Linked DNA regions of Homo sapiens: region 2 is linked to region 1. Evidence: fine-mapped expression QTL. A gene starts in region 1. The other region holds a variant in brackets. All regions are shown on one strand. Distances are from middle to middle. Region 1 holds the start of LRRC63 (leucine rich repeat containing 63). Region 2 overlaps LRRC63 (leucine rich repeat containing 63).

The links.
Region 2: its variant is fine-mapped to the expression of LRRC63 in testis (GTEx, PIP 0.97).

Annotation. Positions count from the first base shown.
Region 1 is chr13:46,207,059-46,215,405 of GRCh38, forward strand. LRRC63 (leucine rich repeat containing 63) reads left to right here and starts at 4,870. Exons shown (of 10, transcript NM_001282460.2): 1 at 4,870-5,201; 2 at 5,944-6,061. The coding sequence starts at 5,977. LOC107984578 (a long non-coding RNA gene) reads right to left here and starts at 4,794. Exons shown (of 4, transcript XR_001749863.3): 1 at 2,837-4,794. RefSeq lists a silencer at 4,626-4,955.
Region 2 is chr13:46,254,265-46,262,611 of GRCh38, forward strand. It overlaps LRRC63 (leucine rich repeat containing 63), which reads left to right. Exons shown (of 10, transcript NM_001282460.2): 8 at 7,645-7,728. Among named protein-coding and RNA genes, the nearest start is that of LINC00563, 39 kb to the right of the region's middle. The variant G/C (reference allele first, on the strand shown) is at 3,929.

The DNA.
Region 1 (8,347 bases):
GCAGTGGGGAGAAGAATAAAGCCCCACAAACTGTCTTCCCCATGGCTTCTGAATAGAGCTAGACACTATATTCTTTTCCTTGGTTAGGGATTACCTCACCTGGAAAACCTGGCAAAGGAAATGAAGAAATTTTCTGCTACCTGGGGCAGGGTGGAGAGAGAAATATCCTGAAACTTTAATTCTACCCTGATAAAATTTGGCATCGTATTATAAATTTGGCAACATATTATAAAGTGGAGATTGCAATTGTCAGAAATGTAGCAGAACTGTCAACAGCATACTAAACTATGTGACACTGAAATGTGAGTTACACTTCTAGTTGTCTAGTTCTGGTATAAGAAATACAAATTCTTTACCAACACTCAACCCACAGAATACAATGGACTCTTACATGTCCCGCCCTTACTCCCATACACAACTTTTAGCCTCATGTACTTACGAATAAAACATATACTCAATAGGGCAGTAGGCATAAGCAGAATGCTAGGTTTGAAAAGGAAATCATATCTACTGTTTAAGGTCATATGTTGACATTAGAATGAAGAATAAGTCATTATAAAGCATTTTTTCTCACCTGCGGTTCTAATTGCTACAGGTGTTTGCTGAGGGTTGAATAGAGAGCATGCAGTTCAGACACTTTATTGATATAGTACATGTTCCTCCTAAGTTTAGGACTAAATCCCAGCCAGTACAGGGACTCAGTAGACTCATCTACCAAAGTCCGGTGTGCACATTAGAAAAAAACCTAAGAAAGATCATGTGCATTTAACACCTTTCCCTCTAGCCATTCAAAGGAGCTTCACATTGCAGCCCTTTTTCACCTTTGTTAGGCACACCAAGTGGCCTGGAAGATGCTGAGAACAAAGAGGCTTTCTTCCTTGGGTTACCGGTTGAAATACATCATCGATTCAGCCCGGCTCAATCAATGGTGACAGCAGCTCGCAGACCCAACTCACGTGGGGGAGAGTCAAGGCCTCCTTACAACACTGTACCAGGACTCCTTCAGGCACGAGCTCTCCCACAGCTCCTGTGCCGCCCAGAGGAGTATAAAGACCTGTGACAGAATGTGGGACACTGCCTAGAGCATAGCATTTGTGCCACAGTCTGAGAACTGCAAACTAGAGTTGCCAACATTTGGAGACATTAGGAAAGTTAAATGTGAAATTTTGTGGATAAATTTTGTGGATAAATGCCCAGGATGTATAGCCCTCCAACATTTCAATTAACGTCAACTATCATCACATAAAGCAGGGGTGTGGAGACCGGAAAACTGGGCTGTTTTATTTTAATTTTCTAACAACATCTACTGCGCACTGACTCTGTGGCTGGCACAGAACTAAGCCTCTGACACAGATTATCTCTTTAACTCCTCACAAGACCCTTTGGTAAGTACCATTTTAACCCAGTTTTACAAATGAGGAAACCCTGGGGCTTAGGTTAAGTAGCTGGTCCAAGGGCACAGGGCTGACAAGTGGCAGCCAAATGTGAACCCAGCTGGGTAGAGCTGTGCTATGCTTCCTGTGCTTGAAATTTAATGCAGATGCCAGCATCCTCAATTAATATAACAATTGTGAAGCTAAAATAAAATCAACATTTAAAACAGTGCCTTCCCCATACTAATGTACATTGCTCATGCTAAGCGCTTAATATTAAGGAAACAAATATTATTTAACTTTTTTTGGTGAAGGACACAATCATACAATATATACAAATATCTAATATTAGCTGGTTGCAGACAGTCTAAAATGATCACTGCAGCTAAAAAAAAAACCTCAAAATGTTTCTGAGAATCAAAGGAGTGTGAATAAACAACACTATTCTACCAAAGCAATAAAATAAAAAATTGTTTTAAAAAAAACCCTCAAGTAGTTATAATGCAGATAAGTGTAGTCTTTGGAAATGATTTAAAATTTCATTTCAATGTCTAAATTATAAAGCCTCAAATTAATCATTATAAGTTGTTTTAATAAAGTTTAAAGTTTAGCACCTAGTGAAGTAACTTATGCATAGTAGGTTTCCAATAAATGATTCTGGAATGAATGACTAAATTCATGAAGGCACTTTTGAAAACAGACAGACATTGTCCTTTCCTTGTGTTTGATTTTTTTTTTAATTCCATGATAAAGGTTGCATGACATTTCCTTATTAGTAATTTTTTTAAAGGAATCCCAGGATCTCCAGTTCAAACAAAGGAAATAACTATCACCTTGAAAGACAAAAAGAAATAATTGGCTGAAAATAATTAAAAACAAATGAAGTGTTTGTCTTTACAGTGAGATATGGGGATAAAAAGAGTAGCAGCTTCTTCAAAATATCTTTATTAACATTTGAGAAAATATAAAACTATTCTCTAGGCAACAGCATGAAAACACATGAAATAAGTGGGTACATTTAAGCCACTGTGACTGAAGAAGACATTTCCCCGTACATATAATTAATATAAACAGGTAAATTCAGACCAATAAAACACTTCTTTCTCAAAAGCATTTTAGTGCCCTGTGTTACTCTGGAGACTCAGTAGTTGAACAAATATGTGCTCAAAAATAACTATTCATTCTTTAACAGTACTTAAAAAAATTAATATGAACATAAAAACACAAATTACTCCATTATTTCCATAAGGTAAAATATTAGGTTAAAACTACAATGGCCAAACTGTTTAGCAAACCTCTGTCCTATTTTAAAGGGAAATAAATAAATAAGAGATAGGTCTATGGAAAATAATGAAGTTGTCTAGCAACACTTTTCACATCACTTCCACCATTTCAACAGAACCAACAGCAAATCTAAGGTTCCCCAAGCGTTTCCCACTTATTAGGGAAATCGATAGCATTACCTGCGGGGTGCCTGCGGTTGCTTCTGCATAAGGCTTTTATCTCATTTTAGCAACATTTAAAAAATGCAGGATGTCTATAACCTTGGCACTCATCATTACGCTGGCATCTTTAGTACAATTTGCTAATAGAGTGAAAGCACTGTGGTTCAGTTTGGGAAGCTTCTTCATAAGGTTCTGCCAAACTGCAAAGGGGACGGAACAAATAAATAGGCTGACCGTACATACATCAGAAAAAGCAGACCCTTAAAATCCAAAAGGGAGTTATTCATTATTTCAAAAACACGTTATTTTACAAAAGAAGAAAGAAAATTGAGGGGATAATATTTTCAAAAATATAAGAACTATAAAATAATCTAAATTGAATTTTGTTTGTCCTGTCTAAACTCATCCTATACTGATATATCATTTCCATAGACAAAGCGAGTCAGATGTGTTAGAATAACATATATACATATAAAATATACCAAGCCATGGATTTAATTTTCATAATAACTATCTCATTTGCCTAAATGTTTGGTACTAAGTGGTAGAAATAGAAGACAAAATGTTCACACCTGAGATTACATATTAAACCGCCCTAGGTTTTAGTCTCATACTTGCTAGAAGAAATCTGCAAGGAATGATACCTGGATGCCTGCGGATTCCAAGTGTGACAAAGCATTTTTTGAAAAAGCATTCAGAAGCCTTGCTTTCGACTACACAAAGCTAAGCATAAATTTTAAAGGCCAAACGTCAGTCAGTAAAACTGAATTCCTGTAGTTCTCATGGTTCCAACGATCTTGAAGAGCATAGGTACCTGACTCAATTTACACTGTCATTTTTTATGCTTAAAAATATAAACCTTTTTTCACATTTACAAAATATGCACGATATATATTACTTGAGACTAATCTTAGCCACAGAGCTGCCTTTTATTTTCAGCTTTGTATTTCTGAGAAACTAATGAATCTATGGTGTAGATAACAGCAAAAGTGGAAATAAATTCATAGTCTGGGGCAGCAGTATAATTGGGACACAGTAAACTTACAAGGAAAAGAAACAGTACACTACTACTGTAAAGGAAAACAAGTTGCATAATATTTTCCAGAGTCTGATTACTTTTTTGTTAAAACTTTTCTACTTTTTTCATTGATTGTTTTAAAACATGTTTGCTACTAAGGAGAAAAAGGAAGACATGGTTATGGTGTGAATCTTGAAAGATCCCCAAAGCTAGAAAGATTTATACAGAAGTCTCTCATTTTCCAACTTCTGTTATAAAGTTCCTGCGCTAGTACTTAGAAAAAACCAAACCTGGAAGGAAGCTCTACCTAGTTTACTTTCTGAGTTCGGATTTCCGCATCTATCAGATGAGCTCTTTCTAGTGCTCTTTCCCCCTCAAATCTCCAGAGAAACACGCACATTTTTGCAAACACACACGATGTATCTATGACTGCACACACAGGTTCATCAACACCATGACAGAGGCGACACGTCACAATATGATAACCAGAACAGAGGACGATGACAGTGAGAAATGGGTTTCTTTTATGGCCCGCTTGGATCCCTAATGCCCTTATTTCTACACAATCCAGCCTCAGCCAGGAACTTTAAAGGATCAGAAAGAGAAAACAGGTTGCATGAAAGGAAGAGAAAGAAAACCGAATGCCCGCTTTTCGAGAGCACTGCAAAATTAGCCCCGGGACCCGGCTGCACAAAAGTGCAGCCTTAAAGAATGCCAGCCCATATTCTAGACACCCAAGTAAAGCATCCTGTAATCGAGAGAAAATAATAAATAATAGTGGTCATTGCCATTAAGCATAAAAATAGTAATAACAATTGTCACCACGGCGTTCCGTACAGCAGCTGCGCGTGGAGCCGGCTTCTCCTCCGGCCCCCACGGCCCGCAGCTTCCCCTGCAGCCCCACAGTGCGTCGGAGGAAGGCGAGGGCTCCGCGCGCGCTGCACCGTGGGCTGGGCCTGCCCCTCCCGGCGCCCGCCTCGCCTCGCCTGTCCCGCGCCCGCCTCGCCTGTCCCGCCCCCGCGCCTGCGCGTCAAGTGGCTGGGCTGGCTTAGCGGACCCCGGTTGCTAGGGTGTGTCTCCTTGGCCTCCTAGAGGGTGGGGATCCGTGGTGCTTCTTCGGGAACAGCCTCCTGCAGGAAGACCCTCGCTGGACCTTTACCTCGCTGCCTAGATTCCGAGGAAAAGGAGATAGGAGACGAAAAGCCAGTTGGTTTGGAAAGCGGCCGATTATCCTAAAGGGTAGTGTGGGAGTCCAGCACTTCCATGCCCCTCTTTGGGTACTACGGAAGGGAGATTTCCAGCATCGTGTGGAACATATGACCAGGGAGTACACCTTGAGCGCTTGTGTGCAGTTATCTTTTGGCGGTAAACGGCCCATTTGTGCAGTTTCAGGGTGTTCCCTTCTAGGCTATCAATGGAATAATGCCGTGCCAGGCACTTTTGATGTTGCCCTGCAAACTAAAAGCACATTTTGGGGGTGCATCTTCTCGCATTATTTCTAAACAGTATGAGTTGGGATCCAGCAGCCCTGGGAAATCTCATTATAGTGAAACCCATCTTATTTTAGGATTGAATTGTTTTGGCCCAAGCATAGTGGTTGAAAAACAAGCCATTATAGAAAGAAAACAATTTGTTTGTGAATGGTTAGATATGGTGGGTCTTCAGAGGCTTATCTAATGAAGGCATCTTCTACACATTTCTGACCAAATTCTCTTTCTACATTTATAGCGATAACATTTTGGAGAGAGAGAAAAAAAATGTCATTTCGACTATTCTGAAAAATCAGTATTTACTAGTTGAAATAGCATTGGCAAATTGAACTTTGTACTAACATGGAAAATTGTAGAATGATCCTGGGTAGTAATAATACACATATTTTTAAAATTCTATGTTTACTTATAACCCTACATTTTAACTGGATTCTTTCTATTAATAGAAGTTTTAAAGAATTATTTTCTTACCCTCTTTTTTTTTCATAAAGGAATTCTGCCTGGATTCAGTAGAGTATTGGTACAGAATGATTTTCTTTAAGATGTAATCTAAATTCTTATTATTTTTCAACAATTCAAACATATTCAAAACCTTTTCAATTCTCATTTAAACCAAGGATTATGAAAAACAGCACTTATTATTCATTAAAATGCAAAAGCCCCCACTGCTTCTTCGAAGACCCTTACCTCCAAAATTCACTAAGCTGTCTTTACATGAGAAAAAAACCCATACAGGTATGTGTATTAATCAGATATGTGTATTAACATTTATGTATCTTTCATAGAAATTCCTTGACTTGCACAGCTCAGAATCACAATAAATACACTCACTAATAACTTACAAATGTTTGTTGTCAGGTGATAACATCCAATTCAATTCCACAGATGCATTTACTGATACTTATTGGTGGACTTAGTAGATTCAAGTTTATCTCATCGATAAAATTTACTTGTAACCCCAGAATTGGTACTCAAAGGGCTTTCTCAGTCATGCGTGGATATGTGCAGAGCACTGAAAATGAGTCACCCAACACACATGCCTCCAGCTGAGGTGGAACAAGGCTACCTCTACCTTCTTGTTTCAGCTCTCATATTGTAAACGGGTACTGTTTTCCCTGTCTGTTTAGCTCTATGTTTCTTGAATGTTTGTGCTTTTAGTTAGTGATTTCACTGTGGGCCCCAAGCATAGTGTTGAAGTACTGTCTAGTGTTCCTGAGCACAAGAAGGCTGTGATGGGCCTTACAGAGAACAAGATATGTGTTAGATAAGTTTCCTTCAGGTGTGAGTAGTGTTGTTGGCCCTAAGTTCAATGTTAACAAATCAACTGTTTATATTTATTAAAGTGTCTTTAAATAGAAACAAATATAAAACAAAATTAGTGTTGATCAGTTGATGAAAATGTTGAAACCAGAGGTTTGCAGGAACCTAGCCCCATATTTCTTCCAGGAGAAATGGTTCAGTAATGAGTAATTCATTGTTTGTAGAACAGAACTACTGCAAATAACAAGGACCGAATATATTTAGTGAGCAAAAACAGACCTTACCTGTTCCCTTCATTAGTTACCCACTGGGATACTGATTGTAATCAATCAATCATATAAGTAAATGCAAAATTACCCTGTGATAAGTGCTATGAAGTAAAGATGAGCCACTTTTATAACTATAACTTTATCTAATGCTTAATCCTCTATTTCTGTTGTATGGTTTCTATTCCCTCCTTATTATAAGCAATACAATTAGCATATTTTCTCATTTTCCCCTTCTCAGTTTCCTCTTCCATCTGATTTTAGTTGATTGCAGTTTTAGTGTCAACATTTATACTGTTCAAATATACCTAGTCTATAACTTGATTTATAATGTTAAATTATCATCTTTTGACCTATGGCTATTAACAGTAGGTAACTCAACTTACCTGTAATACTGCCACAATTTCCTCTCCTACTTTCTCTCCCAACTTTTGTTACATGATTTTTACATCATCATTTCTACATTTCTATAATGTTCTGCATTTACAATCTGTTCTGTAATAATACAGTATGCAGATTTACAGCTCAAGGTTACCAGTTATCTTGTAGTTTCTCCATTCATCTTTTGTTTAAAGTTTATCTTCTAGTACAGAATTTCACAACCTTGGCACTATTGACATTTTAGGTTGGATGGTTCCTTTTTTTTGGTGGGGAAAGCAGAGCTCTCTTGCTCCAAAGGCTCTTGACAGAGGGCTTTGCACATAGTAGGTGATCAAAATTTGTTTTTTTATTTCTTCTAAAAAAAAAAAAAGCAGGATACATGCACAGAACGTGCAGGTTTGTTACATAGGTATACATATGCCATGGTGATTTGCTGCACCTATTGACCCATCCTCTAAGTTTTCTCCCCTCACCCTCCACCCACTAACAGGCCCTGGTGTGTGTTGTTCCCCAATCTGTGTTCATGTGTTCTCAGTATTCAACTCCCACTTACAAGTGAGAACACACAGTGTTTGGTTTTCTTTTCCTGTGTTAGTTTGCTGAGGATGATGTCTTTCAGCTTCATCCATGTCCCTGCAAAGGACATAATCTCATTCCTTTTTATGGCTGCATAGTATTCCATGATGTGTATGTACCACATTTTCTTTATCCAGTCTATCACTGACAGGCATTTGGGTTGGTTCCATGTATTTGCTATTGTGAACAGTGCTGCAATAAACATACGTGTGCATGTGTCTTTATAGTAGAATGATTTATGTTCCTTTGGGAATATACCCAGTAATGGGATTGCTGGATCAAATGGTATTTCTGGTTCTAGATCCTTCAGGAATCCTTATACTGTCTTCCACAATGGTTGAACTAATTTACATTCCCACCAACAGTGTAAAAGTGTTCCTATTTCTCCACAGCCTTGCCAGCATCTATTGTTTCCTGACTTTTTAATAATTGCCATTCTGACTGGCGTGAGATGGTATGTCATTGTGGTTTTGATTTGCATTTCTCAGATGATTAGTGATGTTAAGCTTTTTTTCATATGTTTGTTGGCTATGTAAAT
Region 2 (8,347 bases), 47 kb after region 1:
TATAGAGAAAGTGGGATCTTAGAAACATTTTTATTGTTAGTTTTTTAAAGACTCGGGCATATTTACAGGATGTTGGAAAGAAACCAATAGGGAATAGATTGAAGATGTGGAAGGATGACAGATGAAGCAGAATTTCACAGGAGATGGGAGGGGAAGAAGTCATCAGCTCAGGTGGAGATTCTGGTCTTGAACAGGAGGAGTAACCATTATCTCCTAAAACTGGAGGTAGGTCCTAAAAATGAACATGTAAAATATATAGTTATATGGGTAAGAAAACAGGAAATTCATTTAGTCAACAAAGATTTATTTAGCTCCTATAATGCATCAGTTGAGAGAGGTTACTATGAAATAACTTCAGATAATCTTTGAGAGCAAGAAGAATAATGATTGAAAAGAAGTTTTAAAGAAAGTTGTGATGATTTAGTGTTGATATTGAGAGGAACAGAAAAGAACAGAGCACAGGAAAGTGAATGTTTGAGAGATGATGCTGTGGGCTTAGCTGAGACTGGAAACCAAGGATTCATGGTGACACGAATCTGCATTTCTGCTGATTATCTTCAGTAGCTCAGTCATTCATGTGTAAGATGGAGAAGGTAGATTTTAGCCTCCATAAAAAGACTTCTTTGGGAATGTCCATAGCAGTTTTATCTGCAATATCCTGAAAAAGTCTGCAATTCAAATGTCCATCAACAAAACAGTGGAAAACCTAATTGTTTTTATTCGCAATAATCAAAAGGTGGTAACTCAAATGTCCATTAACAGATTAATTAATGAATAAACAAAATGTGATATATACATACATAGAACATTATTCATCTTGAAAACAGAATGAAATGCTAGTATATGCTACAACAACAATGAGCCTTGAAAACATTATGCTAGGTGGAATAAGTCAGATACAGAAGGATAAACATTGTGTTATTGTGCTTATATAAGGTACCTAGAATAGACAAATTTACAGACACAGAAAGTGGAATATAGGTTACTGGGGGCTCAGGTATAGCAGAGAGGGGAGAATTGGGAGTAGCTGTTCAATGGATATAGAGTTTCTGTTTGGGATGATGGGAAAGTTCTGGAAATACATATAGTGCTGGTGGTTGCATAATACTGTAATTGTAATTAATGCTGCTGAATGGCACACTTAACAATGGCTAAAATGGCAGATTTTATGTTATCTATATTTTACTATAACAAAAAATACATAGAGCCTGGGCAACATGGTAAAACCCCATCTCTACAAAAAAATACGAAAAATTAGCTGTGCACAGTGGTATGTACTTGTAGTCCCAGTTACATAGGAGGCTAAGGTGGGAGGATCACTTGAGCCTGGGAAGTTGAGGCTGCAGTGAGCTTTGGGCAACAGAGTAAGACCCTGCCTCAAATATATATATATATATATATAGTTATTAGTAACCTCAATGCTTTCATCTTTCCTCCTAGTCTTCCTTCTTTCTAAAATTTTTAGGTATAATTTATATACAATAAAATGCACAAATCTTAGGTATTTGATTTAAAGTGTTTAACAAATATACGCACCCATATAACTACTATCCAAAACAAGATATGGGGTATTCCCATTATCCTAGAAAGTTTACCCTAGAAATGTCCCCATGTACATTTCTAGTCAATTCCCAGACTTCTAACATCATAGACTTATTTCACCTGTTCTGGAAAATTATAAAAGTTGATTGATACAACAAATGATTTTTTGAGTGTGACATCTTTCACTCAACATACATTTTGGGGATTCACCCATGTTGTATATATCAGTATTCCATTCCTTTTTAATGATGACCTCATGTCACATGGCCTCAGCCATTTCAGCAAAGTCAAAAATAGAAATGGGATTAACTAGGAACGAAATTTGTGGACAAGTCTTTTGTCTTATGGAATGAATACCCATGATATACATGGGAAACCCACTAGGTTCTTGAAGATTTTATACTAATAGAAATGTTGCCAGAGTGTATTAAGAAGGACAAAGACAGTATGAAATGAAAAAAGGCTGTCAGATCTCCAAAATTCCATGGGCAGGAAACAGCTGAATATATGTGCCAACTTTCATGAAAAAGGGAGGGTGATTCAGAGGGTGGTGCCAGGAACTGGGGAGGATGAAACCAGGAGCACCGAAGGTGGAGCTGTGATTCTAAAAGACAGAGCCAGAAGCCAGGAGGGCAGAAACTGGAAAGCAGGTGGCAGAGCTGGGAGCTGCTGCTGATTATTCCCAGGCCTTGAAACCAGATGAAGTTTACTCAGTCCTATTTCAAAATTGCTTGGAATTGGTAATTCCTGTTTACCTTTCATTTTCTCCCTTTTGAACCAGAATATCTATAACTTATCCTATGCCTGTCTCACCATTGTATTTTGAGAGCAGATAACTTGTTTCTTTAATTTCATAGATCCACAAATGGAGAAAAGTTGTGCTTCTGGATGGGTTATATCTGGAGCCTCACCTATACCTAATTTAGATGATGAGATATGGGACTTTTGAGATTTAGATGAGATGTTGAACTTTGAGTTGATGCTGTAAAGGTTAACCTTTCGGGAAATTGAGATAAGTGAATGTATTTTGCATGTGGGATAGATGTGAATCTTTAGGGATGAACTGTGATAGGGCGAATAATGGTCCCCAAAGATGTTCATATTCTACCAGAACATGTGAATATGTTATATTACATGGCAAAGGGAAATTAAGTTTGGAGATGAAATTAAGGGTTCTAATCAGCTGATCTTAAAGTAGGGAGATTATTCTGGATTAGTTGAGTGGTCCCAATCAAATCACATGAGCTCTTAAAAATGGAAGGGGGATGCAGAAGCATTTGTCAGAGAGATACCACCTGAGGACTTGACTTGCTTTTGTTGGTTTTGAAGATGGAGGAAGGGAGCCATGAGTCAAGGAATGAGGCAGCTTGAAAACCTGGGAATGGCCTTCAGCATACAGCCAACAAGAAAACAAGGGCCTCAGTTCTACAGCCGGAAAGAACTGAATTCTGCCAACAGCCTGCATGAGTAAGAAAACAGATTCTCCCTAGAGCCTCCAGATAGCAATGCAGTCCTGCTGATGCCTTAATTTTAGTAGAGTGAGACCTTTGCAGACTTCTGACCTATATAACTATAATTAATAAATCTGAGTTGTTGTACGCCACTGTTTGTGTTGCAATTTGTTAATGGCAGTAACAGCAAACTAAAATAAAACCAGTCAAAGATTTCAACTCTTGTGGGATCACATTCCCCCAGGAGGAGACAGTCAATATATGTAATAAATAAATTATATAGTATGTGAGAAGGTAATAAGTGATATGAAAAAGAACAAACAGTAAAAGGGAGTGAGAGTGTGATTTTAAGTGGGATAGCTAAGGTAGGCCTTATTGAGAAAGGGACACTGGAACAAAGTGGGGGTTTGTGATGTAAATTTAGCAGTTCAAGTCTAATTTAACAGTATTTTATTAAATAAAACAATTGGTTACTCAATTTGTTTGAAGCCCTAGTGTTAGGATTTAAATTAAGATACATATTTTTTCTAGATATTATCTAACATAGAAAAATGGTTGTTTATTTTGGTGGCTAAGCATTGTATTTAAAAGATTGTCTTTTTAATTCTTTTCATTATTAGTCTTTTTCTTATAGTTTCCATATGTTAAAATATGCATATATTTTTTTTCCCAGATATATTATTTTGGTACCTTCTCAAAGTTTTACTAAAAGTGTAATGGAGTACTTTCACTGTTATCTTTCCATTCCTAACAAGATCTTTCTAGTTTCATGAGACTCAAAGTGATAGAGTAGAAAAAGCAAGACACTTTCAGAGGCAAGTTCTGTCCCATATATGCTACAAACTCTAGCAAGCCAGTGACCTACTCTTTTTTTTTTTTTTTTTTTTTTGAGACGGAGTCTTGTTCTTGTTGCCCAGGCTGGAGTGCAATGGCAC[G/C]ATCTTGGCTCACCACAACCTCTGCCTCCTAGGTTCGAGCAATTCTCCTGCTTCAGCCTCCCAAGTAGCTGGGATTACAGGCATGCGCCACCATGCCTGGCTAATTTTTTGTATTTTTAGTAGAGACGGGGTTTCACCATATTGGCCAGGCTGGTCTTGAACTCCTGACCTTGTGATCTGCCCACCTCGGCCTCCCAAAGTGCTGGGATTACAGGCGTGAGCCCCCGCACCCAGCCCTGACCTACTCTTAACTTCAGTTTCCATCTGAAAGTTTAGAAAACTTATACTTGTCTTCAAGGATGTTACAAAAATTAGGTAAGAAAATCTTGTAAATTGGCTGGGCATGGTGGCTCACGCCTGTAATCCCAGCACTTTGGGAGGCCGGGGTGGGCGAATCACGAGGTCAGGAGATCGAGACCATCCTGGCCAACATGGTGAAACCCCATCTCTACTAAAAATACAAAAATTAGCTGGGCATGGTGGCGTGTGCCTGTAATCCCAGCTACTCAGGAGGCTGAGGCAGGAGAATCGCTTGAACCAGGGGAGTTGCAGGTTGCAGTGAGCCAAGATCACACCACTGCACTCCAGCCTGGTGACAGAGCAAGACTCTGTCTCAAAAAAAAAAAAAAAAAAAATCTTGTAAATTATTTTTAAAATCCTTTCAATTATTTTCACAGATTAGTCTCTTTTCCTTGACCTAAATTTCTAAAATAAAATAAAATATGCAATATTTTTGAAATTATGTAACAATTGATTGTTTCAATATAGGGCAAATTAGAAGTTAATAAAGAAAAAAGTTCTATTTGAGTAAAGCACACATTTACTGAGGCCTACATTTTCGTTCCTAAGGTTTTGCTTTGAGCAACTTAGGGCATACTGTGTGAGGCAGCATGGAGGCAGGAAAGCTCAGCTTCTGTGGGAGAAAGAACAGGGGCCTCCTATTAGTGGCCAGTGGATCAACACTCCCATGTTATGCTTAGAACTTTATTACTATGAAAAGCTCTTTGATTTGTCTTTTCAACTCTCTTATAAAATGAAGATAATAAATCACTTCAAAAATCCAAATGTTTTTTTTTCCTGTTCCCAAAGCTTTTGTAGAAAAGATAAAAAAGGGAGAAAAAGGGAGGTGGGGTGAAGGACAGAGACATGTTTTAGACTCATGCCCTGAGGTTATGCAGAAACAACTGTCACAAAGGTTAAAACAAAAAGTCTTTATCTTTTTCTCAGTGGATAGCAGGAGAAAAATGACATAGGAAATAGCTACTTCAACTGAGGGAGTCAAATCTTTGCCTTACTTGTTTGACTCAATTTACTTTAATTGGCAGGTAGGTTCTTCGGGAAAGAGAAACTATTTGGAACAAAAAGAACCGAACAGCCTATTTGAAAGCCGTGTCTTAACAGCAGATCTGAAATTGTACACATTTATTTTCCCATATTGTTATTTATTAAAGAAGGGGATTAAATTACCTTGCCTCCACATATCTGATGAAAAGGGATAGCTACATTTTATTTCATACCAAATTGGATACATTGCTTAACCTCTTATAGCTTCCATTTTTTTAACCTGTAAAAAACAATCCTACACTGGTATGTTAAAAGATCATTCTAAATTACCATATAGTAGGCTTTTAATAAATATTTATATCAGTGTGGTGGTCATCACTGTTAATACATGAAATTATTATTGCTAGTCTAATCTTGCAAGCTAACAGTAGGGCTCTAGTTTAGGCAGCTCATTGGCCAATAATTTGCTAATAAATCAAGCAATGAAATAAATGTAAAAAGTTTTACATATCCTAAAAAATGTGATAGATTTGGTACTGGTGGGACATAGAGTATCAGACCAAACAGGCTGTCTGAACAGATTTTCTCTGTAAAAATCATATATAGATGACATAAATTTCAACTCTAGAACCTATTCAGCTTCCTCAGTGCTGCCTACACCTGTTACATCTCACAATCAGCAGGAATATGTCATCCATAGTGAAAGCCTGGAACCAAACTAGGTTGCCAGAGCCAAGGTAATAGGGAAGATAGAATGACTCCAGAAACTGCCTGAGGCAAGAAAATGATATGATATTGAATTGAAAGATAGAGCAAATGGTATTAACATTTTCTTTACAGAGATGATAAGAAGTCAGAGATGAACACTGAATTGAATAGGCATTTCCTTTGTTTTCCTAGTCAGTCTCATTAACTTCTCAGAGCAAATTATTTTAAATTAACTGGGGTCACCATTCCTTTCATTCAGTTATGATTTACTCAGCACTTACGATGTACTAGACAGCATGTAAGGCACTGGATGTATAGAAATATGAAATTGAATCCGTGCCCTCTAGAAGCTCATAATTTTAGGAGGCAGACGTTTATTGCACGATGTGATGGGTACTATGAGAGAGTAAGCAGAGAAGTACAGAAGAGGCATCTCACCCAGTCTGAAGGATTTGGGAAGAGTTTGTTGGAAGAGATGACATCTGAGCCAAGACAAAAAATGAAAAGACAATGATCAGAGTCAAGCTTGGGGAAATTTTACGTGTTATTTAGAGATATGTGATAACTGGTTAATTCAGGGAATTTTAGCAAATAAATGCTGGACCACAGAGGAATATGGGGGATTGTGAGAGGCAAGCTGGACAAGTAGCATGGGACCAGATCATGAGGACCTTTATATGCCATGTTAAGACAGTAAGAAGTTGGCGAAAAATTCTGCTCATGATGCCTTAGTTAAAAATCATACAAATAACTTCTCACCTTTTATTTACATGGAAAACAAGAAAGTCTTTGAGAACAGCACATACAGAGAAGGGGGTGTTTACTAGGGATTATGATGACTATGATACTGAGCCCTTCAATTCCAGTCTTCAAGAAGCAATTCCCACTTCCATCCAACCCCTAGGAGTCAGGGCTTCTGACAGCACAACTATGTTTTTGCAGAGTGTTTGTATTCTTTGGTTCTCACCTTTAAGTACTTGTCTTGATGGAAAGAAAGATTAAAGGTATTTTACTAGAAAAGTCTTAATGCAATTGTAGTGGGTTGAATAGCATCCCTCGGAAATTCATGTCCTTATAGAACCTCAGAATGTGACCTCATTTGGAGATAGCGTCTTTGCAGATGCAGTTAGTTAATATAAGGTCATACTTATACTAACTTGGATAAGGGTGAGCCCCAAATTCAATGGCTATTGTCCCTATAAGAAAGGCATGTGAAGACAAAGGCAGAGGTTGGAGTTATGCTTCCACAAGCCGTGGAATGCCAAAGATGGCAGGCAACCACTGGAAGCTGGGGGAGAAGCAAGGGACAGTTTCTCCCTCAGAGCCTATGAAGGGAACCAGCCCTGCTAATACCTTCATTTCGACTTCTGGCGCCCTGAACTGTGAGAAAATACATTTCTGTTACTTTAAGCCACCCAGATTATGGTAATTTGTTAGGAAACTAATGCAACAACAACAACAAAAAAGTATCTTAGTGATAATGAAAATTTTTCTAAATAGGGCTTTGTCCACTCCAAAAATCTCAAACTGGTCTTAATGGATAGATGAGTAATTCTTAGGAATTTTCATAGTAATTACACGATCTATAATGAAAAGAAGTCCATATAAATTTCAAGATCTTAGAAATCTGGTTTCTATACTCCTGCCTACTTACTCAAGTACTTATTTATTCCCAGTGGTGATACATAATCATTTCTACAATTAATTTTCTCTTTCTATTTAAGGTTATTTTCCTTGTCTTATCTTGAAGAACTTGATGTTTCCTATAATGAACTTACTTTTATTCCAAATGAAATTCAGAAACTCAGGTATTTTGGAAGTACACAGAAAGTTATATGCCCCTTAATTATATATTTAATAATGATTGTGATAGAGAAAATCAATCCTTTCATTTATTTAATAGCCATAAAATGTAATCTGTGAAGTACAAAGTTTACCAAACATGTAATTTGAATGATTGGTGTACAGTATTTTTAAGACATAACATTTCCAGAAATTATTTAAAGAAAGTGCAGATGACTACTTAACAGAACGATAAGCTACTTATGTCCATTTGTCTGTGTGTGTACCTGTGGCTCTTATTATGTTTCATTTATTTTTTGTGAGGAAATACATTTACGCAAAATGCTAATAATACAAAATATAATTTTAATGCAAAGCTTCAATTCTTTCTAACATTAATAAAAGTCTGAAGTTTATCTATGTCCTTCTAGGTCAGTACTATACTGTTTTGATTGTGACTTCAGAATAATTTTTAATAACTAGTAGGGAGATTATTTTTCAGTAATAGTCTCTTAACTATTCTCTTTAGAACATAATCTTTCAGATCATTTTGTATAATTTCTAGCACATCCAGCAGCACACATAATCACAGAGTTAGAATTTTAATTGCAATTGCATAGAGTTTACTCATAAATTTGGGAGAAT